Linked DNA regions of Homo sapiens: all the other regions are linked to region 2. The links come from fine-mapping of genetic effects on gene expression. A gene starts in region 2. Each other region holds a variant in brackets. All regions are shown on one strand. Distances are between the middles of the regions. Region 1 overlaps LOC105376137 (a long non-coding RNA gene). Region 2 holds the start of SEMA4D (semaphorin 4D). Region 3 has its middle 49 kb from the start of SECISBP2.

What was found. PIP is the estimated chance that this variant, and not a neighbour inherited with it, causes the effect.
Region 1: its variant is the best candidate, but not a certain one, in a credible set for the expression of SEMA4D in whole blood (TOPMed, PIP 0.58).
Region 3: its variant is the best candidate, but not a certain one, in a credible set for the expression of SEMA4D in tibial artery (GTEx, PIP 0.62).

Annotation. Positions count from the first base shown.
Region 1 is chr9:89,529,999-89,538,177 of GRCh38, forward strand. LOC105376137 (a long non-coding RNA gene) reads left to right here. Exons shown (of 3, transcript XR_930102.3): 3 at 1-1,464. Among named protein-coding and RNA genes, the nearest start is that of SEMA4D, 36 kb to the left of the region's middle. RefSeq lists enhancers at 2,254-2,423, 2,256-2,425, 5,756-5,925, 6,195-6,364. The variant A/G (reference allele first, on the strand shown) is at 4,470.
Region 2 is chr9:89,494,806-89,502,959 of GRCh38, forward strand. SEMA4D (semaphorin 4D) reads right to left here and starts at 3,308. Exons shown (of 16, transcript NM_001371194.2): 1 at 3,114-3,308. RefSeq lists silencers at 2,628-2,777, 3,208-3,397.
Region 3 is chr9:89,362,921-89,371,099 of GRCh38, forward strand. It overlaps a transcript of SECISBP2 not described here and a transcript of SEMA4D not described here. Among named protein-coding and RNA genes, the nearest start is that of SECISBP2, 49 kb to the left of the region's middle. RefSeq lists enhancers at 977-1,477, 1,478-1,978. The variant C/T (reference allele first, on the strand shown) is at 4,042.

The sequences.
Region 1 (8,179 bases), 35 kb after region 2:
CCAGGCTCATCCATGTTGCTGCAAATGACAGGATCTCATTCTTTTTTCATGACTGAATAGCATCCCATTGTGGATATGCACCATGTTTTCTCTATCCTATGTGTCCTTGATGGACACAGGTTGATTTCATCTCTTGGCTATTGTAAATAGTTAAGCTAGCATTTTTAGCAGAACATTTGGAAATAGTCTTTCAGGTTTATCTTATCTTTTAAAAGTTTTGGTGTATGTTTTGTAATGTGTATAATACATACAGTAGTTATGTGTATATAATAAATTTGCATAGATATATGTATATTGACTTTTTACAATTAACAGTGATGTAGTTCAGAAAATGAGATGCCCTGTTTGGGTGACTATTCTGTCTCAGGTGTTAGGTTGAATGACCAGGTGGATAACTGTCTAATTTCTTGCTGGTCCACAGAGACAACTGCCCTTTATCACCTCCTCCAGAGCACAGGTTGAGGGCAGCTACAGTCACATAGTGCTTGAGAAGCAGCCGGTGAGGCCATTCCTGTATCACTGGCCCTGAAAGCCAGCTCTATGCACTTTTCTGTGCCGAACAGATTGTCCTGGAGAGTTAGCTTTTTGTCTACTAATCTCTATGCTTGGAGGTCTTTGTGGAATGGAAGTTTTCTCATTAGCAGGCAACACAATGAAAAACTTCCAATAACTGCTCTTAAAGACTTTATCTGGGCCGGGCACAGTGGCTCATGCCTGTAATCCCAGCACTTTGGGAGGCTGAGGCAGGCAGATCACCTGAGGTCAGGAGTTCAAGACCAGCATAGCCAATATGCTTGCCGGGTCTGTCCCACAGACCCTGGCCAATCGACGGATGAACGGGGTACTCAGACACAGGTATGCAGTGGAAGAGCAGCTAGGGGACTTCCAGGCTCTAGTGGCCAAAGTACAGCATCCTCGAGAAGCTGGAGCTGCTTGCTTTTATTGAGTGCAGGCACAATGCTAAAAGCCTGAAGCAATACACAATCTGTGGGTAATTAACATTTATTGTTCCCCTTTCAGGGAACTTATGGAACTTATGGCGGATGATCACAGGTCAGCTCCTGGCCAACATAAGTAAACAAGCCTGTTTAAGATAAATTTCCCTACAATCCCTTGTACCTACTCCTTGCCCTCTGCCTCAGGGTTAGAGAACAGCTGTCTTCAGCTATTCTCCCCCGAAACTATGCAGAGCCTTCTGACCTTTCAGAAGGCCTGCTCCTTTCCCTATAGTTTCTCCCACCACTCTGACCAACCTCCTAAACATGATGAAACCCCGTCTCTAAAAAAATACAAAAAATTAGCTGGGCTTGATGGCAGGTGCCTGTAATCCCAGCTACTCAGGAGGCTAAGACAGGAGAATGGCTTGAACCCAGGAGCAGAGGTTGCAGTGAGCTGAGATCGCACCATTGCACTCCAGCCTGGGTGACTGAGCAAGACTCCATCTCAAAAAAAAAAAAAAAAAAACACCAAAGGAAAAAACACTTTATCCTGCCAGGAATAGAACTGAACCAGGAATCCATGAAACAAGAAAAGCAACTCTGGGGGCCCCTGGGTGAATCTCTGCTCCTAGCTGGGTGCCATCCTTCCCTCATGGGTCCAGGAAGCTTCTACTGTCAGGGCCTGAAAGACAAAAAGGGGTGCACACAGAGCCAGGGGTTCAATCCCATTTATCTCTGGGGTCATGCTTTCTGCTGGACATGGTGGGCTTAGGTGTGTGAACATGCTTGGACCAGACTTGAGTCAGAAGAAGAATCATCCTCCAATTTAGCTATGAGAACAGCACTGTTCCTGAGTGGTGAGAGTCAGCCTGCATCCCTCTGGGGCCTGGAGTCCTTGCAGGGATCGTGAACTGCTTCCATGGTCCCCACTTGGAGTACAGCAGGACCTGGTGCCCAGAAGGGGTGGCCATTCATGTGGCAGGCTCACAGCCTCTCTGCTAAGCACCATCTCTCCCAGAGCCGGCAGATTTTCCACGGTGGTGCAGATGGCCTGAAAATGGCCAGGATTTGGGGCCTCCACATCTCCATGGCTCAGCCCCAGCCAGCAACCAGCATGGGCATCCTAGCCTATGAGTGGCCACCTGCTTTCCGTGTGATGAGAGCACACATCAGTTGCAACAGGGTTGCCAGGCTTAGCCAACAAAAATATTCTCCTATGCAATATTGGGGATATAGTTATACTAAAGTTTATTTGCTGTTTATCTGAAATGCAAATTTAACTAGGCTGTCCGTATTTTATTCAACAACACTAATGACAAGGGCTTTGAATCTGAGTTCTGCTATCTAGTGACCTGAGAGCTGCCTGAGCTCTCTGAGACTTAGTTTTGTAGTCTGCAGAATGGGAAGGACAATGCCACCTCTCTGAGCTATCCATGTGGCAATATGCAAGATGGGAGAGAATCTTCCAGCTGAGTGGCTGGGGTCTTGGCCCACCTGCCTCTTGTGTTGTGCAGGGGAATGCAGCTGCCCAGCTCCATGTGCAACGAGAACTCCAGTGGAACAAGGATGGCTTGTAATGATGCTAGTGACAAAGGTTGCCATTTATAATTGGAATTCCTGACCAAGGTTTCTGTTCAGCACACAACAGCCCCTTCATAAGTGCTGGGTGCAGTCCACACTCTGTCATTGCCACCGTCGGCTCTCTGGCTTGAAAGGCTCTGGGAGTGCCAGTGAGTCAATAGTTCCTGTTTGATGAGAGCTGCTTTATCACTTCCAGGTAGCCCTGTCCCTCACCATACTGCATAGGGATGGAGTCACCCTGGTGTTGGGCGGACTATGGCTCCAGGCCCAGCAGTTCACAATGATGGCATGAAGGCTGTGATGGTTAAAAGGGGTCAATTTGACTGGATTGAGGGATGCCTGGATGGCTGGTGAAGCAGTTTCTGGGTGTGTCTGTGAGTCAGAGGACTGAGAGGAAGACCCCCTCTCAATGTGGACGGGCGCCCTTCTGTCAGCTGGGGGTGAACAGGTGGACAAGGCAGGTGGAAGGAGGATGGATATCCAGCACTCTCCCTCTCTCTCTCTCTCTCTCTCCCTCTTCTTGAGCAGGAGGCTTTTTCTCTTCCTGTCCTTGGACATCAGACTCCAGGTTCTTTGGCCTTTGGACTCTGGGATTTGCATCAGCAGCCTCCTGGTTGCTCTCAGACCTTTGACCTAGGACTGGGGGCTGCACTGTTGGCTTCCCTGGTTTTGAGCCCTTCAGACTTGGACTGACTTTTTTCATAACCCAGCCTGCAGATGGCCCAGCGTGGGACTTGGCCTTTGTAACTGTGTGAGCCAATTCTCCCTAATAAACTCCCATATATATATATACATATATCCTATTGATTCTGTCCCTCCAGAACCCCAACTAATACAAAGCCTTTCTTGTAGTCTCTCAGGCATGCTCCTCACTCCTGACATAGGGACATTATCTAGTCTTCACCCCTAGGGAAACTCACCCACAGCTTCACAGCAGGAGGGCACGCTGCTTCCCACGAGGCTGGTGGACTCCAGCATAGGCATCCTCAGCCCTGCACCAAGTCCTCAGCCTGAACAGACATAGGAGACAGCGCTGCACATCAGGAGGCTGGGGGTGCATCCTGGGAGATGCCTTCGGGCCAACTTCCCTGGAACTTTCCAGTTGCCATGGTGACAGTCAAAATCGTGGTGATATTTCAGGTGGTTGGCAAGACACGGAGTCTGGGACAGCATGCTGCAGGCTGATGTCCCTCTGATTCAGTGTCTGTGGCTCTGTGCTGGGAAGGATGGGCTTGAGGAGAGGGTCAAGCAGGGCTGGAGAGGATTCTCCTGGGCCAAGCAGATAGCTTTGCCCGGAGCTGTGCCAGTCAAACCTGGCATCTCTCCTGGAGTGTGTAATGCGGTGGCAGTTTGTGACATTAGGGAGGAGGTTGATTGATTATGGTTTGTAACAGGTCATCCAGGAACAGCAGCCATTGTTTTAATGAAAAATCCACATGGCTGATGATGGAGAGGAATGTAAATTGCCTTGGAGGACAGCGTGGGCCTTGGGAGTGACCCAGTCCAGTGAGATTCTTACCAGCTGCCATGTGACCCCCTGTGCACTGTGCGTTCATTGCTGCTTGTCAGAAATGCCTTCTACCAGTTAACTGGGTCCTATTTTTGATGTGATAGCTAGATTGGTCTCTGTTTTTTAGCTCTCTTCTCGAATGGTTTTCAGAACTCAATTTCCTTTTCTTGCCTAATTTTCATCAGGTGATGGTCTTATGATTAATAAAGTAATGTTTATCCATTGTAGTTTAATAATTTTAAAAATAATATTTGTCAGTTAGAAAATAAGAAACTCATAGAGGAATAATCAGAATCACTCATGATTTCCATCCAGGGGTCGAATGCCAGACCCCAGATCTTGCCCCCACTCCACCCTCCACTGCCAGGATACTAAAAGCTGCGTTTCCTGCTCATGTGGGAAGGGGGGCCCAGAGTATGTGGGGTGGGGGCAGCAAGGGC[A/G]GAGTCCATGAGGGCCTTATGTCTGATTTGAGGTGGGGCTTAGCGAGGACGGGGTCACTGTCTGGGCTGATGGGGCAGCCAGGTGAAGAGTTGAGGTGAGGGATGCGCAGCCTCCCAGGGGCCAGCCGTCTGTGGAGGTTTTCCATGGAAGGATTGATGGCTCTTTCGGGAATCTCCTGTTGTAAATAATTAAGCTGCTTGCTTGCACCAGAGTCTGCGGAAGGAGCTGAGATGCTGACAGCAGGGGGCGGAGAGCCAGTCCTGCCTGCAGATGAGGGTGTGGGGGTGTCTGTGTTGTGGGGGCTGGATGGCTCCGGCTCACACAGGACATATATGAACACATGGTAACCTAATAACTTTGCATGCGTTAGCTCAGGTCATAATTTATGACAGCTGAAATGGACAGCACTAAAAAGGACATGGGAGATGGAAAAACCATTGCCTTTTGCGCACCACACTCCTGCTCACACAGTTCTAGGGTGTACACACATACCTGCGCATGGAAAGCTGTGTGTGAGACTGTGAGTACATGTATGTAGGGCTGTGTGTATGTGTGTAGGGCTGTGTGTGTATGTGTAGGGCTGTGTGTGTGCGTGTGTAGGGCTGTGTGTGTGTGTGTAGGGCTGTGTGTGTAGGGCTGTGTGTGTGTATGTGTGTAGGGCTGTGTGTGTGTATGTGTGTAGGGCTCTGTGTGTGTGTGTAGGCGTGTGTGTGTAGGGCTGCGTGTGTGTGTAGGACTGTGTGTGTATGTGTGTAGGGTGGTGTGTGTGTGTATAGAACTCTGTGTGTGTGTATGTGTATAGGCCTGTGTGTGTGTAGGGCTGTGTGTGTGTGCATGTGTGTAGAGCTGTAGGTTTGGTGTGTGTTTAGGGCTGTGTGTGTACAAGTGTATAAGGCTGTGTGTGTGTGTGTGTAGGACCCTGTGTGTGTCTGAGTTTTATTGGGGTTGTGGGTGTAAATAAGTGCAGAATATTTAATCAAGGCAATGAGTTCTAATTTCCTTTTTAGATGAAAAATTGCAGTCTTTACCTTGTCAGGCAAGTGGAAATGTGATAAATGTCCCAGTTTCCGCACAACTGTTGTTCTGTTGACAGCTGTCAAGTTCCACCTGGCACACTTGGGGCTGCGCTGGCATTCTGGCCTTGCCTCACCTTGCCCTCAGGTATAGGATGTGCTCATGGTGCCCCATGGCAGCGAGACCTTGCCCTGCTTCACACCCTCTGAGCCCCCAGGGACCCCTGGTTGTCTCAGCTCTATGGACACCCACACCTGCCAGGGGGGTCACAAATGGCCAGCAGGTGAGGAGAGGCACCAATTGTCCTTCAGCCACCAGGAAGGAAAGTCCTTGAAGGAGGGCACCACCTCCAGGGGCTGAGGATGTCATAAAGTGATTGACTTTAAAGAACCCAAAGACAAGTGCAGGGTCCTGAGGAGGTCTGAGGTCCCAAGTGGGGCCAAGAGGAAGGGGGAGAGGGTGGGAGATAGCAGGTCTGGGAGATATCCTTGGGACCCCATGAAGCAGGCCTGACGAGCGTGCAGGAAGGAGAGTGCTCTCAGTTGTGGAGGAATCCATATACAATTTCCAGGACATTATTATTTATCCCATTTGGTGTTACAATTTCAGAAGAAGGAATTAAAAAATCACAAGCAAAATAAAACAAACTACTCAATCATCTGAGTAAAGTTCTGAGTGCACAGTGTGATTTCATCAGATAGAAGGTGATTTTGAAAGATGGGTCTCAGAGTGAACAAACAGGAAAAGAAAAGGGGATCCCGGCACTGGTGTGAGCTAAGTTGCTTGGGTGCATCCGTAGCAAATGGATTTAAAATACAGGCATTTAACGTAACACTGGAGAGTAAGACGTAATGGCATCCAAAGCTATCCATGGCATAATATTACATGAAAATATGGAAGTTGGAGCACACATCACCCCTCACATATGTAGGTGTGTCTATGTGCAGAGAAAAGGCAGGAAGGAAGTGGACAAACTTGCTAGAAACGGTTAGATGTGGGAGGTGAGAACACAAAGTGGTCTCCTTTTTTTCCTCTCTCTTCTTTCTCTTTTGTTTTTGCTTCTCTGTGTTTGCCTTTTACTTTTTTTTTCTTACAATGAATATATATATATGTAAAACCACACATATATACATATGTGTATATGCATGTTTTAAATAAGGAAAGCAATATAAGAAAAGACGTTTGGGAAATGTCTACTGTATATTGACTTATGCATGGTCCAGGACCTTATTAGTTACCTTATCTGATGTGTTCAACAGTTCTCTGAAAACTGGTAACTGTTCTTATCAGTGTGTAGGCTGAGGCTCACTGGCTTGAGCTGTCTGTCCCCAGGCAGCCAGCGTGTAGGTGGCGGGCCTCCTCTTCTGGTTGGGTTGTGTTGATTTCACTGCCCCTCCACCATGAAGGCAGGGTACAGCCTGGCAGCCTTTCCACCCTGACCCAGGACAGTGGGGAGAGCTCATCTCAGTTCTGTGATCATTTCTGCGCCTGATTTCCAATTAATCTGGAAGCCGAGTGCCCTGCAGGCTGTGCCTCCCCATATGGGCTTCAGAAGGCTCATGGAGTCTCCGTAGAGAACATCAGCAAGTGACCAGCGAGACCTTTGATGCAGGAAGGTGATGCTGATGGCCGCTGGGCCTTTGCTTTGGCTCAGTGTGCCTGCTGGAAGGGCGTCTGGGGACTGTTCCCAGTGAGGTGCCCAACCAGGAGAAAGCTCTTTAGAGTTGCTGCTATGTCAAGGGCAGGACAGGCCTTTGCAGAGTGCTGAGCCATAATCCAGGCGCTCCCTTGGCTTCCTGTCTTCAGAGCCCAGGAGAAGCCCGGGTAGTTTTGTTGTAAATAAGTGACATTTGATCAAGACCAGAAAGACACATGTCGTTGGGTTATGCCTGGCAACCAGATTCCTCCAGGCTGTTACTCAGGGCCGGCTGTTCTTTATTATGGGATTTATCATGTTGAGGGGGAAGAAAATGCAATTCCTGCTCTTCTGAAAGCACACAATGTGTTTCCATGCCCTGATGTCATTTATAATCTATGGCAGGAAAAATAACTTGGGCATACCTTTTTACTTGGTTCCTAACATTGCAGTGGCTCATGACCAAGATGGAAACTGGCTCTCAACCCTCGTGCTCAGAGCGTTCCACATGGACACCTGTTTTTGTCCTTGAACTATGAATTTCATAGTTAGTAGTGGCGTCTCAGAGCCCTCTGGGAGTGGTCATTAACAGGGATGGGCCATTTGGAACCAAATGAGACTATCTTGCTAAATTCAGCCAACATCAAGCACCAAGATGCACAGGACCTTGTGCAGGTAGCTGCAGGGACCTGACAGGAGCAGCCCCTCGCCTACAGCCATTGCGAGCCCAAGGGAGCTGGGACTCCTCAAGTAACCAGGAGCTGCCAGTTTGGGCCCAGGTTGGTTGCTGCTGTTATCTTGTGCCTGAGGGCCTTGCCTTCTCCTAGACGTGAAGCTCTTCGGAGGCAGAGGTCTTAGATTTTCCTGTCTCATCCCACAAGACACTTTCCTGAGTGTAGTAGGTGTGCAAAAACACCCTCAGCATCCCCACTCCCTGTACACACTGCTCCTTTTAAAGCAATCCCTGCTCCACGGCCCTGTGAGCCTGTTTGTTGGGCCCAGCCTGCAGGCACAGTGAGTCTGGTCTCTCCTGGCTAGTATTATTACACAGCATTGATG
Region 2 (8,154 bases):
CTGAGGCAGATCCCAAACATCATTTCATCTACCAACACTCAGTATCTATTGCTAAAGGGTGAAAGTTATTCTAACATAACCACGATGCTGTGATTAAGGAATTCCTTAAAATCATCATTCACTCCACAAATGTCCATGAGACACATCAATAGCCTAGTTTTCAAAGGAGTGATGCTTGGATCAAATGCTGATCCAAGTGACAGCCTGGATCAGGCTTTGATCGAAGCCAGAAATCTTGGGGTGCCACTTAGATGTGATCCAGGGCAGGGATGCAGTCATTGCTTTCATGGGCAGCATCTGAAACTTCTGGACCAAATAACAGGACCCTGCCTGCCCCCCACTGAGGTTTGCACAGGTGCTGTGGGAAGGCGGCTGCTGATGCCCCAGGGGAAGCAGCAAGGCAGTAGAAAGCTGGGGCCCCTGCTGTGACACCCCCAGCTAAAGGCAAATTCGCTCAGGGAGGGTCACAGAAGCTGAAAAGTGACCCACAAGCAGCAAAGCAATTTGCTTATCCCAAGGATCGCCTTAACTAGTGCACCTAAAACACCACCCAGCTTCCAGGGAAGGCCCTGGCACACCCTCTCCACCTGACTGAATCAGCAGCTATCTCCTCCAGCAGCCCTGGACCCTGGACGGCAATGGTGATGGGGATGGGGATGCAATGGGCAGGGCTGAGGAACTGCACCTGCCAAGCCCAGGGCGGACCCTGGCCCAGGGAAGAGAGGACCCACCCCAGCTGCCTCTGCCACCTCCCTTCTCACCTTCTAGTCTTCTTCCTGGAATTGTCCAAGTTCAAAGAAGAAATAACTGCCCTGGTTGGGAACAGCAGGCAGCAGCCTTTCTCTCAGCAACTAGGCTCGACAATCAGCCGACGGCACGTTTATTTCTATATTTTCACGTGGCAAGTTTCATCCCCATGGGTCCTAGCTCCAACCCTGGAGCTCTGGCTCCAGGGGTCAGGAGGAGAATCTGCAACCACCCTCCTGGACCCGCCCATCCCTCCCTCCCCAACAGAAATGGAACCAAGAGAGGCAGAAGCCTGAACAGCCTCAATGCAGAAGCACAGAAGATAGAGAAAACCATTGATCTTTGCAATGCATTATTGATTTTGCTGTTGTGCTGTCAGCAGCGGACGTTCCCTCCCTCCTCAGTCAAAGCTGGCCATTAGCGTGCACTCCCAAGCTTTGGCCTAGACACACCCGCTTGGTGTGGGGAAAGCGGCTCTAGGTAACATCTGCCTCCAGCGGTCCACATGGAGAGGACTGTCCACAAGTGGATGATGTCACCAAGGACATCTCCCTGGCCCCAGACCCACTGGATATCAAATGCAACATGGTCGCTGGTCTTGCACTCTAAACCTCAGCCCAGGACCCCAGGCACTCAGGGGGGTCTGTGCAAGGCTGCATTTTCAACAGACTCTGGGTGTGCTTCTCAGGAGGTGGGCCCCCTCCCATGGAGTCCCTCCCTTGTGCTGTGCTGCAAGACCTTGGGCTGGCATGGCAGCTGGGGCTCTGCATCCCCACGGTGGCCTTTTGCCTGTCTGCACTCTGAAATACAGCCACTGAGTTCCACCGTCTACCAACTCCTAAGCGGCCCACCCTCCTGGGACCCCAGGGCTGCTCCTGGCACCAGTGATGTGTTTCTATTTCTTTGTTTGACTCGCTGAGTGTACCACGTACACTCTTCTCAGTCTGAAGGTCTGGCCTTATGGGAGGGCAGTCTTTGCTCACAGAAACAGGCCAGTGCATCCCTCATCTTCCCACCCCAGCCTCCCTGGTGGGTATGCTGAGCCCGCCTGCTTTCTTCTTCTGGCTGACGACTACCAAGACATGATATACGCAGACACCAACTGTCAAAATGACAATCAGGGCATTATCATCTCTACCAGAATCCTGCCCCTGCACTGGCCAGAGCTGCCTGTTTCTGGGACACAGTAAACATTCCCAAATAACCTCGCCTGGGCAGCCAGCAGGCAGGCCCCAGGCCTAGGACACATATGAGGTGACAGGCCACTGGTGTCACGTCACCCCCAGGAAAGGAAACTTCCGTTCCGTGGCGCCTGGTGGATTTGAAAAGACTCAGAACAGCAGGGTGAGATGCTTGGCCCCAGGCCCCACGTCCAGCTTGGCCTTCGGGGGCCTGGCCACCCACGAGCCTGGGATGTGCTCAACACAGAGTGAGGTTTTCAAAACAAAAGCAAAGCAACTTCATGTGGAAAACCTTCCGGAAAGCAGGACCCAGCCCTCGACACCAGGCCTCATTTGACGCAAACTGCCCACTTACAGACTCCCATTCACCCACTCTCCCACCTACCCCCCAAAATACTAAGCCAGAAAATAGAGGACAACCACGAGTTCAACTCTCCTTTACACGTTTTTACTGGCATAACCCCAGTAGAGCCAGCCCCTTGCAGCTCACTAGGCGGCTGCAACAGGTGCAGCCCAAGCTAAGGCTTGTGGTTCTCCTGGGCTGTTCTAGAATAATGCAACCAAAACCCGAAAGGAAACCGAGGCCTGCAGCACTCACTGCCAAGGCGGCGACCTGACCACTGCGGCCCAACCTGCCCCACCTGTCTGAGTGCGCGGCGCCGGGTCCAGTGCACAGGGTCCGCGGCCTCCGCGACCAAAATAGAAGCCCGCGGGGGCCCGGCCAGAGCCCGGCTGGCCGGAGTGGGGCCTGACCTGGCGGGGCCGGACTGGGCGGGCCGGGGCGCGACGGGGCCTGGCCGAGCGCACCGCCCCCTCCCTGGCCCGGGTATGCAGCGCGCCCCCGCTCCCCCGCGCCCAGAGGAGCCACCTGCGCGCAGGGACTGGGGAGGCAACCGGGAAGGGGAGAAGGCCGGGGAGGGATAGCAGAGAGGTCCAGGGGGTCGGAGGGGTCCGGGTAGGTGTCTCTGGGAGGCGTCCCAGGAGGGGCCCCGGGGGGATCCAGGAAGGAGTCCAGGGGTCCGGGGATCCCAGAAGGAGGCTCCTGCAGGGGTTCGGGGAGGGCCCCGAGGGTCCGGTGAGGAGCCTAGGGGTGTGGAGTGGGGGCTCCGCGGAGGGTCCAGGCCGCCCCCAGCGCACCTGCCCGGCCCCGCGCGCCCTCCCTCCCGCGCCAGCCCGGCCGCTTACCTGCAGCGCGCGTCCTGCCCGCGGCGGCTCCCGGCCGGGCGAGTTCGGGCGCCAGGAATGGCGGCGGCGGCGGCGGCGGCAGCGGCGGGAGGCGGCCGGGCCGGGGAGGGGGTGGCGGGGAGGCCCGGCGGCGGCAGCGGCGGCTGGGATGCTGCGGCGCGCGAGAGCGCTGAGGCCGGCGCGGGGACGGAGTGCGCGGGGCGGGCGCGCAGGCCCCTCCTCCGCTCCCCCTCCCTTCCCGCCTCCTCCCCTTTCCCTTCCCCTTCCTCTCCCCCTTCTTCTCTTCCCTCCTATGGCCCCGCCCCTTTCTTCCTCCTTCCTCCTCCCTCCTCCTCGCCCCTGCTCACCTCCCTCCTTTCCCTCCCCCAACCTTTCTTTTCCTCCCTTCTCTTTTTCCTCCTCTTTCTTCACCTTCGCAACACTCTTCCACCTCTCTCCCCTTCTCCCCACTTTTGCTCCCCACTCCTTCCTCCTCACCTCCCATCTCTCTTGCCTCCCCGCCAGGCCCAGAGGGTTGTCCCTCAGCCCTGGGTTGGTCTCTGCTGAGTCAAGCACCCGTTCCCAGGACCAAGAGGTGCCCTGTCACCCTCTTCCTCACCAGCTCTCAATAGACAAGCTTGCCCCTTCTGGGGTCCTGGATGAACCCCACCCTTTCCAGGCCTCCCCCAAATCCCCCAGTTTTTTTTCACCCCCAGACCCTGGGCCAGCTCTTCTGAGAACCTGACCTGCAGTGTGCGTGAGGCACGTGGCACCCAGAACACTTGGCTGCTGACTTTGGGCAAGAATATTTCACACCAGGCTGCTCCCATTCCCCAGGGGAGGGGCTGGCACCACCTGGAGTCTTGGTTTCCCTGAACCCCCGTGCTAGCCTTTTGCCAAACGTTCATCATTTTCCACTCTGTATGGCAAATGGTCCTCCTGTGAGGCTGCTGGTGAGACTTGTTTGTGACTAGCCCATGGGTTTGGGGATCTGGGGGCCCTCAGAGATGGTGCTGCTCCATCCAGACCTCTTCCCTCTGCCCCCAGGAGAGGTGACAGGGCTCGCACAGTGACTGGCCAGGCTGGGAGGCCTATTGAGGAACACAGTCCTGAGAAGGGGACACAGTTTCTTACGGAACCAGCTAAGATTTCCCCTAAATGTGAGGAGTTGGGGAGCCCCTCTCCAGGCCAGGTGATACCTCCCTGGACTACAGACTGCTGTTGAGGGGCAGGGGCCCTGAGGCTGTTTTCCTGCTGAGCACTGGCTCTGAGAGCCAGAGTTTACAAATGAAGCCAGTCCCAGGCCCAACAGTCACAGAGTTAAAGGCCCAACAGTCTCAGAGTTCCGTTCTAGGGCCTCCTGTGGTTTCTGTGGTTCAGTGCCGGAGCTCTGAGAATAGGGCTTCGGCCCAGCAAAGGCTAAGATGGCAAAGCTGGTGTCAAGCAGGGTGGGGTGGAGCACGCACCCCCTCCTCCCTCTACGGCATGGCAGCCACCACCCTCTTGCTGAAGAATCCAGACCTGGAATCTGATAGACTCCCTTGACTCACAGCTCTGCAGTTTCCAAATAACCTCAGGCCTCAGCAAACCTCTGTACCCTGCAACATGAGGACAGTGTGGTCGTCCTGGAGGGTTTGGGGAGCACGGAGAGAGAATGGCAGGTAAAGCCCACTGCACCGTGTGCTCGGGTTCAGTGCTGGTGACTATTACAGGAAAAACTAGAGAAGTCTTTTCCAAGCTCTTTTCCAATTGTAGGGGTCCATGAATCCATGTTCCACATCCCATTTGGATTGAAACATAATGGGAACGGATTAGGACAGAACTGGTTTAACAGCATTCTATACCCAAGGAGGGATGCACGCTTAGGATCTACACATGCAAGCATTGCACTGATTGGGGTGGGGTGGGGGGACTCTCTTTTATTCCTCACTAGTCAGACACATCTAGAATACCATGCCCTTGCTTGGTGTCTAAGGCAGCCAGCAGTATCCCGTGGGAGGGGAGTTGACCCACCGGGAGTCTTCAGCCTAGAAAATCAATGTGTGGAGCACAAGACAGAAGAACCCCAATATGTGCAAAACTGTCCCGGGAAGAAGGATTACTCTGTGGTGTTATGAAGGGCAGAATGAGGACAGATGGGTGGAAATTAGATGAGAAAGTGGATTCCTGCCTATCGTGGGCGCTTTCTGACAGACCTCACTGTGGAAGAGCCGGCTGCCCCTACAGGAGCGTGCCCTTCACAGCCAGCGTCTAGACAGGCCTGGGGCCACCTTGGGAACACACTGCAGGGAGGGGACCAGCAGCAGAGGGGTATGCTTCTCAACAACTGCTGAATTCTCTCCTGGCTTTTAGACCCACATGCTCAGAATCTAATAGAGGGCAGCCCAGGGCAAAGAAGAGACTTTGCATGGCTGTCCTGGGGCCCACACTTCTGGCATCATGACCTTCCAGAATACTGTCCTCTCTAGCCTGTTTCCTAATGCATACAGAAGAACATGAGAGAATTCAGTAAAAACTCCAAAAAGCTTTCCGCAATGCCCAGGCTGCGAACACAAGGGCTTCTTTGCACCGTGCTTATATAAAATTGCCCCCAAACATGTTTATTGCATTCATGAAGGAGACAGGACTCTTAGTTGTAAGTGATAGAACTTCAGCCCATACTATTGGCTCACTTGCATCCAAAGATGCCCCAAGTACCATTAGAACCGGGACTTGGATGCCATTATTAGGTCTTCCTCTTCCCTCCTCTCTGACCTTCTTCCCTGTTCCCTTCTCTCAGCATGATTGCCTATGTCTCCCAAAGTGACCAAGCTTGCCTTTTTATTCTTGTTTCACACTCTGTCGTGGGACATTTCAAACATAGATATAAAAGTAGCAGGCTGGGTGCAGTGGCTCACGCCTGTAATCCCAACACTTTGGGAGGCTGAGGCAGGCGGATCACCTGAGGTCAGGAGTTCGAGACCAGCCTTGCCAACATGGTGAAACCCCGTCTCTACTAAAAATACAAAAATTAGGTGGGCATGGTGGCACAAACCTGTAATCCCAGCTACTCAGGAGGCTGAGGCAGGAGAATCACTTGAACCCGGGAGGCGGAGGTTGCAGTGAGCCAAGATCATATACCACTGCACTCCAGCTTGGGCGACAGAGCAAAACTCAGTCTCAAAAAATAAAAATAAAAGTAGCTAAATGAACTCCAATCTTGCCTTACCTCTCACCCCCTTACTTTCCCCTCCAATATTAAGTTCAAGCATATCAAAGATCATATTAACCAATCTATTTCCTAGTTTCCCCAGAAATGCCAAGTGTTTGGATACTGAGACCATGCTTTGCAAAGTTTCTCTGCATTTCCCAGCCAGAATGTTGACACCATCTATATGCATATGAGCATAGTAACTGGATTGATAATAGTTAAGTCCCATATGAGAAAAAAACTCAAGTATGGCAGCACAAATAATACTCAGCTTCCAACACGGCCCAGGTGGATATGAGGAGAGAGGATCCTCTGCTTCCACTTTGCAGTGCAGGAGGGAACAGGCACGTAGTGGGCTGGGAGCCGTTTCCAGATCGCCCAGTGTGGAGCCTTACGCAGTGGAGGAGGTGTCTTCAGAAAGAGTCGGCCTGCCGCCTCTCACCTGTAGTGGCATGCAGAGTGTCCAGGCTAAGCTTAGAGAGAGAGTCAGCACAGCAAGTGGAGAAACGGGGTCCTCTGAGGGACTGTGGGAAGGTTGGCTCTGGGACCTGCCAGCAGCTTCTAGAAAAGTCCGGGGAGATGTCCTTTGAATGTGACCACACTCTGCAGAGACGTGGGTGAGCCACACCTCCACTGTTACCATGCAGTGGCTGCCAAGACCATGCTGTGACTCCTACTCCTAGCTCTGTTCCTCCCCGCACCCCAGAAAAGGCTGGTAAGAGTGTGGCCTTCCTGGCCAGCCTCTCCAAAATAGAGAGTCCACACCGGTCTCTGTCAGGCACCCTGATTGTTAGAACATGTCAATGAAGGAAGCCGAAAGGGATTTTGAAGGCTCTGAGATCCCCAGGCACCTCTAGCACCCTCATATGTCCTTACTGCCACTGAGACCCCCACAGGACCCACAGAGCTCTTTTTGTTAAAGCCACACTTGGAAACGTGGGGTCACACCAGCAGAAGCATAGAAATGAAGGCCGTGCTGAGATGTTATCATTGCTCTGTGCTCCTGCACAGCGTTCAACTGTCAAACCACTAAGTGCTAGATAAATCTGGTGAAGGGGTGTAATCCATTTTTGGTGCACACACTCATGGCAGCACTTCCCACATCACTGAACATGCAGAATGGTTTACCAAGCCATCCTTCGTCATACTGGGGAGTGTACAGGATGCTGATGTGGCCCCATCTGACCATTGATCTAATCAGTGCTGGTGTCTGCTGGATTAGACTTGCCCCAGCAAGTGAACTTGCCCCAGCAATGCCTTTCTGACCTTTAAGGTGACTGCTGTCACCAACTGCCAGACCATGGACCTCTTCGCATCCCTGGCTGGCTGGCAGACACCCACTTATGTGTCAAGGCTCTGCCCTGGCATCATTTCCTCCAACACAAACCCATGCACCCTGGGCAGAGCTAATATCCCCCACCCTGCTCCTCAGCTCGAATGTCACCTTACACGTCACTTCCTTGGTGCCTGCACCAGCTTCCATTATAATTGTTTGTTGATAGTTTTCTTTCTTCTCTGGTCTACATTTTGAACTTCACAGAGTGGTGAGGTCTACAGAACTCTTTTCAGAGTAATGTGTTTAAATGCATAAAGTCAAATACAGGATTCAAAAGGAAATGAATTATACTGAAATCCAGCTACCAAAATACTTTAAAATGTGATCTACTTGCTTCTTTTTTAATAATATGCTCTGGCGGCAGATCTGATAGCTGTAGTTTCCAAGTCATGATAAGTCAGCCGATATTTTAAAGTCTGTAACGAGCATGATGTGATGTGAGAATCGCTGTGATTTCTGCTGAGAAGTCCTTACATACTGCTGATGTGGCTGTGTTTGTTGCCTGCATGTACACCCGAAGGAAATGCTTCCTTTCA
Region 3 (8,179 bases), 130 kb before region 2:
TAGGGAGCCTCTGCCCCACTGCCTGCAGCTTCCATGCTGTAGCCCAGTTCCTGCCAGGGCTTAGCTCAGGAAGCCACTCCCCCTGACCCCTCCAACAGGTGCCTCAGGTGAGGCATCCAGCCAGGAGCTACCTGGAGGGTTCCCCATCTGTCCAGGTTTCCTGCCCTCCTCAAAGGAGTGGCTGGCTGAGTGCTCTGTACAGAGAATGGGGTGGTCGTGGGGGCCCATCTAACTAGACAGCCCCACCTGTGAGTCCCTCCCAGTCTCGCCTCCCTTCAGTCTCTTTTAAGGGCTGGGGCCAGATGCCCCTTGATCTCCTGCAGTCTCAGCAACAAGACGTGGGATTTCCCCCCCCAGTGTTGCAGATTTCATAAAGGAAACTGCTCCGGGGCTAAGAGGGAACAAGTGGGGTCCATGCTGAATGGGGCCCTTGAAAGATCCACTGGATGTGGCAGGTGCCCTGCCCCTGGCTCCAGCCCTCCTTTCTTTGCCCGGCTGCGGCCACTTACCCACGCCTTCCTCCAGCTCTGCATCATCCGGTCGTGCTCCCCAGCCACAGCCCTCCAGGCAGAGAGCTCTCTGGTCCACCTCTCCTGGTGGGTCACTTCTGGAAAACAAGCAGGGTCCCCAGGTCAAAGCTCTGTGGGCCTTTATGGCACCCTTGATGCCCACTGGCCACCTTTCTCAATGGAAAGCCAATAAAACCCAAACCCAGAATGCCACCGTGCAAGCATGCTTTCCAGCTGTTTTTTTCACTGCCATTGTAAATAGTGAAAAATTACCTCATAAAAGGGTAACAGTGGGCATGGGAATCACTTACCAGGTCTCATCACAGCAACCTGCACCTTCGAAGTCTTGTTCCCTGCTGAGGAGAGGACAGAGCAGCGATACTCAGCGCTTTCCCTGATGGCGTCCTGCAGCCAGCTGAGTGCATGGGCCCTGCCATCGGGCAGTGCATGGGTCTGCACAGGGACACAGGTCTCCAGAGCTCGCCCATTCTTCTCCCAGACAAAGCGAATGTCTGCAGGACCTGGGGACACAGACCGTTTCCACCTCTGAGTCCACATTTAGGACCCAAAGAAGCTGCCCCATGAGGGTGCAGGGGGGTTACCTCTGCTGTCCCAGTTGGACCTGAAGTGACTTGGGACAACTTCCAATTCAGTCCCTGGGACTGCCCTGGAGGTGGCTTCCCCATGGCCAGCGGGAGCCTTGGCCTTGGCCCGTCCTGTGGACTTCCTGCTCTTTGACCTTAATTGCCATTTTTCAAAGCACACCTGTGTGGCCTGTGTCCCCTAGGACCCCCTTTCTTGCAGCGCTGTGCTGGTTTCTTACAGAATGGTTCTGGGCCTTGGAACAGCATCCCACCCCACCATGGCCCTGCTGCCACACACATGTCCTGTGACCACATGGACAGAGACATCCCAAGGCTCTGCCATCACCAGGGCCACAGCATGGAGAGGCCCAGAGCTCGGCCAGCTGTGTGCAGAGGGGGCTGGGCCAGAGTGGGGACCATGAGGGCCTGTCTCTCCAATTGAGACACTGGGGTGGGCTTGGAGGGGAGTAGATGCCACAGGCTGGAGAGCTCAGACCCTGGCAGGGGCCAGGCCCTGCAGAATTACACTAGGACTGCCGAGTGCAGCACATCCAGGATGGGCTTCCAGCCTTGAGCATGGACTCTGGGCCCGACATTGGCCACTTCTGCCGCAAACCTCTGTTGTTTTTCTCTGGGCTTTTGATCTTAATTACTTATTGAAGAAAGTAGAGAGGCCAGTTACTTCACACACACTCAGACCATCTGTTGCAACCTGCCAGGGTGGAGCCTGGCTGGCCTCAGCTTGTCTGATGGAGAGATCAGGAGGGTGGGCGAGGCAGAGACGTTCCCCTGTGGCCCAGGCTGCCTCGCCTGGGGAGGCCAGCCTCATCCCAGGGCAAGAAGTCTGCGCGGCCAACCCTGAGGGCTACTCCTAGACACTATTTGTTCCAGGTGGCTGGGGTGGGGCTGTGAAAACCAGAATGTTGGGGGTTTTGGGCGGGGGGGAGGGGCACAAGTAAGTTCTGGTCAGCAGGTCACCTCCCGGCCTTCCTTGCTCGTGAAGTCTGTTGGCCCTCCAGGGGCTGCTGGCCATGTTGGGACAGGCTCAACTCCCTGTTCTTACTGAAGGAAAAACAAGCACATCCATTTTGATCTGCTTCGCACACTGGCTTCCACTCAAATGCAGAAAGGGCTGAGGGGGGCCACAGTCCCACTAAGCTCCAGCCCCAGAGCGTACAGACCCTGGAGTTGAGCTGGGAGGGCCAGGCCAGGCCCTGGAGGGCAGGTGAGGGGGTGCAGGTGCTCCTTCTGTCTCTGAAGCTCCTGCTTGTGGTGGGGCTGGGGAGGCCGGCCAGCCTACTCTGCTGCTTCTGTCTCCCTCAGGCACAGCCTGCATCAGGCCAGGCACCCCAGCAGCGTGGACTGGGGTGACACCCACCTGCTGCCTAGCGACCCGGCTCCCTGACCAGCACCTGCCCTTCCTCGAGGCCCACCAAGGCCCCCAAATGGGCCATGGGCCACCTAGACCAGTGCCGGCCATGGCCTCTGCTTGACCATGACACCTCGTAAGAATTGGTCTTTAGAAGTTAGATTTGCCCTAGATGTCCATCAACCTCACAATGACAAAATGAAGTGTGGCTTCATGGAGAATGCTTAGTAGTGAAAAGGAAGGAGTTCAGAACACTGAGCAGGTAAAACAAATTCCAGAGCCAAAAGAGTCCAAAGTACCTGCACACACAAAAACTGGCCTTGTTCTCAGGTGTAGGGGCAGAGGTGCATCCAGTTACAGGTATTAAATGGTGTGGGTGGACCCACGCTCCCCTCCCTGGGCAGGACAGTAGTGGCCAGAGAGCTTTCCATTTCTGTGGCACATGCTGGACTTTTGAAAAGAAGAGATCGCCAGTTTAATGAAGCTGACTTTAGTAATGCATTTTCCCTGCTTTACTGACTGTGGCATCTGCTCATCTTTGTCCGGTCTCTTGGTCAACAATTCCCCACTGTCCAGGATCACCAGAGAATGCTCCTCCCAAGGACTTGACCAAGCTCAGACCCTTTAGCTGGGCAGTCCTAGGAATGAGTCCCGAGGCAAGGATGGGCCCAGTGAAGCCCTGTTTCTATCAGTGAGGAGTTGGGAAATGTCCAAGAAGGGGGCCACAAGTCACTCATTCGAAGTGCCATCGAAGAATATTCAGCAACACAGAAAAATAAGTGAAACAATATCTAGGAATGTGTGCATATATGTACACACCCATGTATACATGTGTGAACGTAGATAGTCATGGCCCAAAAATGGCTGGGATGCTGGTGGTAACTACCTCTGGATGGTTAAATTTGGGATTGTTTAAATTTTTTCTTTATACTTCCCTGGAGTTTCCAAACTTATAACAAACAAGCATTGCTTTTATAATAATAATTTTTTATAAAAGTGTTACTTTGAAGGAAACATTCTGTAAACTCAAGGAAATTCAGAAGGTGCTCCAAAACTGTTTTGCCTGGCGGCCCATCTGGCCCTGGCCTGGTGGACAAGCCCTTGTGAACAGGTTTGGTTTTTGTGCAGAATTTAAAAAAAAACAAAACTTAACACTCTATAATTTGTTTTTTCCCACTCAAAATGTTTTGGACTCTGGCCACAGATAATTCCATGTATCTATCTACAAATATAAGTACATATTACATAGATGTACAAACATATGTCTCTATGTACATCTAGGTGCCCATCAACTGGGGAATAGATATTCCCTTTCCCAGCTGATGGGCATCCAGGTAAAATCTCATTTTAAGAAACAGATTTTTTTGAGCTGTTATGATCAAGTAACACTTTTCTTTGAACAGACAGTGAAGTGAGTTCTATAAAAGCCCGGTCTCCTCCCTCATGTGACCTGCACCAAGAACCACCCAGGGGACTGGAGTCACTGAGTCACAGGAGCCTCTGGAAGGTTCTCATGACCAAGCCCTTGAGACTAAGAATCTGGGTGGCCTAAGCTGGATTGGATTAATCACCCAACGCC[C/T]CATCATGGGACCACTGACTGCAAAACCCTCAAAGCTCTACACTCTTGGGGTGTGAGCAGAAACAGACACGTGCTTACCACTGCTAACAGGCATCAGTAAATACTATTTAAATACATGCTTGATCATCATAAGACATTAAAGATGTTAAAGAAGTACTTACGTTCCATGTATTCGTTTTTAAACTATCCATCTCTTTCTGAATGCATGAGAGAGAGGGAAAGTGAGAGTTACCATCAGTGTGCAGGGCCACCCCATCAGCACCGCACCCTCAGCGGGACAGGGCAGCAGGTGCAAACCCACGTATGTCCCACGGAGGACTGCTGGGGAGCTCCTGGAATCCTAGGCCCCCAGTGGGGAGCTGTCTTCCATCTCCCAGCAGGGCCTCCTGAAAACACCACTGTTTTCTTGCTTGGGCCAGTGCTCCAAGCTCCCTAACCATCCAACCCTGTTACCTCAAGAGAGCGGCCAGGCTGGGGTGCTACTCCCAGATCACCCCCTTGGCCTCTGTGGGGTGGGGACAAGAGGCTGGTCTGATGCTGTGGGGCTCAGCAGCCACCAACCTGGATGTGCCTTGGCTCTTCCCAGTGGCGAGCCAGGTGACACTGGTCGCGCCCTCAAAGAAGGGAAGTTGTTGTGGCTTACAAGGATCTAGGGTAGAGGTCCTGAGGACAGATATTTCCCCCTGGCCCTTCCTGTCACTGCAACTAGCTTAAGTTGAAGGCAAATTAACTGCTGTGGCAGATGCCGTAGGTAATGATCTTTCTCCTACAGCTAGGACTGTCGTGAGAAGACTGATCACCTTGGTATAAGCAAGGGCCAGGTTTATTCACCAGGGCTGGGTTTATTACATCAACTCAGGAGTCTGGGGAGGCTGTTGGCAGCCTGGGCTCCAGCACTCAGCCTGTCACTGGGGCACCTCCCACCTGCTCACTCCCACCCCAAGCCTCTAACGGAGCCAGCTGGTGCCAGGACCACCATGGCTTCAGAGCTTCGTGGATGTGATTACAAAATATGGAGCTGATTCTACTCTGCGACAAACCAGGTGCCCTCTGGGCAGTGGCCTCGCCCTGAGGAAGGCCTGGAGGGGTGGTGAGACATCCACCCAGTGACTGAGTTGCTCGGGCCCATCCTGGAAAGTGCCCCCACTGCCATCTCCTGCAGCACTCCTCTGTGTCCTCCCGGCATCCCCATGCATGTGGCCCACTCTGACCTCAGGGCTGGCTGCCTCGGGGCCAGCCCATCTCCCAAACTCACATCCAGGTGGCCTTCCTGCAACTAATGGGGCAGCGGGCACATCCCCAGAGGGGCCATTCTCTGCACACAGTGCTGGCCGCTGGCCATCATGTCTTCCATGATGGGACTCCTGGCTTGTCCCTGCCTGTACCCGCTGCCCGGGCCTCACCCGGACACCTGCTCCCAGCCTCTTTTCCCGAGGATCCCACTGCTTCCCTGGCCCATCTCTGTGCTCTCTCCTTGGGGCACGGTCTTTTCTAATCCTGGCCATGGCCCCTCCTCCCTCCCAGACTCTGGGGACCCTTCTGGGGACAAGGACAGTGCAGCTGGGGGTATGCCCTGAGGCCTTGTTGGTCATCCTTTCTGTCCTCTGTTGAAGTCACAGAGTAGCCAGGGGCCCCAAGAGGAGGGAGGAGAGAGTGAGACCCCTGCCACATAGGTAGCAATTCTGACAGCTCCCTTCTCTGAGTCCTCATCTCCCTGACAGTCACCAGGCCGACGCAGCCTAACGTTTCACTCTGGTATGCTCTAGACCACTCAGGGCACTGGACCAGCCCCAGCGCTTCTGGAATGCACCTGTTCATGCCTGCCACTTACTGGCCAAGCCGCCTTATCAATGTGGGCAGGAATCCTGAACCTCTTCTCTGCAAAGGGACCTGAGAAAGTACCACTGAGGCATCTGTAGGCATCGCCTGGCTCCATGGGGGGCCTGTGGGAAGGCACCACTGAGGCACCGAGGGCATTTCCAGACCCCAGGTAACCAGACAGCTGTGTTGTAAAGGCACGTGGAATTATCCCAGATAACAGAAGAGACATGGATAGTTTCTGGTGAAGCTGCCTCATCTAACATGCGAAGGACCTCAGAGCACAGGGAGTTGATAGCACCACCTTGTCCTGTCCAGCAAGGGTGGCCCAACACACAAGGTCAACTAATTCCCACGACGGCCGTGGCCTTTCAAGAGTCTGAAACAAAGGGAAATGTCACAGAGCAGCTGGAACACACACATGCGTGCCAACAGGCCACTGTGGCTGCTAGGAACGGGGGCCCTCTCCAGAGCCCTGGGCCCCTCAAAGAGGACCAAGGGCGCCTTCTGCTGCTGCCCTCTGATCCCAGTGGTTCCAAGGGCTCTGATTTCTAACACTGTAGTTAAAACATAAAAGGCCATCCCAAATCCAAATATCTAAATGCTGCCTAAAGTATGGGGGAACCATTATTAGCTTTGAAAATGACACGGGTCTAAACTTGACATGGAAGATAGTCCTGGCAGAGGTGAAGGCAGGGCCCTGACAGGGTAAAGACTGCACTTTGGTTAAAAAATTATATCGATCTGTTTCTGTGTGTGCACACTAATGTACAAGTGCATGATTTGTATCTGCATGTAGACACAACCCATCGCCATTCATCGCTATTGATCCTTACGTTTGTATGCCAGATGCGCTATGTGCTGGCACACGGGTGGTGGGGTTATTTTTTCACCCATCTGTATTCTGAGTGATCCATGAGGAACTTGGGTTCATCAGTTCAGACGAGCAGAGCTCGGCTGCATGCTAACTTTACTTCACCAGCTCCAGACGGCTTTCCTCCCCTTGTCAATACACATGCTGCTCCACTTGCCACGGGGCTGCATCCCAATAAACCCACTGTGAGTTGAAACGATCCTAAGTCAACAATGTGTGTGTGTGTGTGTATGGTTGTGTATGTGTGGATGTGATTGGTGTGGTGTGGGTAGCGTGCATGTGTCTATGTGGTGTGTATGTGCTTTGGTGTGTGCAGTATGTGTGGTGGTGTGTGTGTAACAGTGGTATGATTGGTGTGTGTGTGATGTGTGTTGTATGCTGTGCTGTGTGTGGTGCATGTGTGAGTGGTTGTGTTTGGTATGGTGTGTATGGGGGTGGTTTTAGGTGTGTGTACAGTGTGTGTGTGTGGTGTGTGTTGGTATGTGTGCACATGTGCAGTGAGTATGCATGGTCTGTGTGTATGGTGTTTGATGTGTGTGTGGTGTGTGTGATTTGGTGTATGTGATGTTTTGTGCTGTGCATTTATTGTGTGCATGCACATGGTGTGTGTGTTGTGTGGTGGACATGATTGTGTTTGTGATGTGTGTGCGTGTTATGTCGTGTGTGTGTGTTGTGGTACATGTGTCGTGTGGTGTATATTGTGGTGTATCTGTACGTATGTGGTGTATCTGATATATGCGTGGCGTGTGGTGTGTGTGGTGTGTTTGTGGTGTGTGGCTGGTGTGTGGTGTGTGGTATGTAGGTGTGTGTCTGGTTTGTGTGTGTGGTGTGTATGAAGGAGGTATGGTGTGTGTGTGATGCTGGCATGTGGTGTGTGTGGCATGTGGTGTGAGGGGGTGTGGTGCTGGTGTGTGGTATGTCTGCTGTGTGGTCTGTGTAGTGTGTGTGGTATGTGTGTCTGGGATGTGTGTGGGGGGGTACAGTGCATGGCATGTGTGCGGTATACGTCATGCTCATGTGTGGTGTGTGTGTCTGGTGTGTGGTATGTGGCTAGCATAGTCTATGTAGTTTGTGGGGTGTGGTGTGTGTGTGGGGTGTGGTTGTGAGGGGTGTGATGTGTGTGTGGGGTGGGGTGTATGTGTGGGGTGTGGCATGTGTGTGGGTGTGGTGTGTGTCTGGGGTGCGGTGTGTCGGGCGTGTGTGTGTGGGATGTGGCGTGTGGGGTGTGTGTCTGGGATGTGTGGCATGTGACTGGGATGGTGTGTGTTGGGGGGGTGTTGTGTGTCTGGGGTATGGTGTGTATCTGGGGTAGGGTGTGTATCTGGGGTGAGCTGTGTCAGGGGTATGTCGGGGTGTGGGGTGTGTGGTATCTGGGGTGGGGTGTGGTGTGTGTCAGGGGTATGTGTATGTCTGGGGTGTGGGGTGTGTGTTATGTCTGGGGTGTAT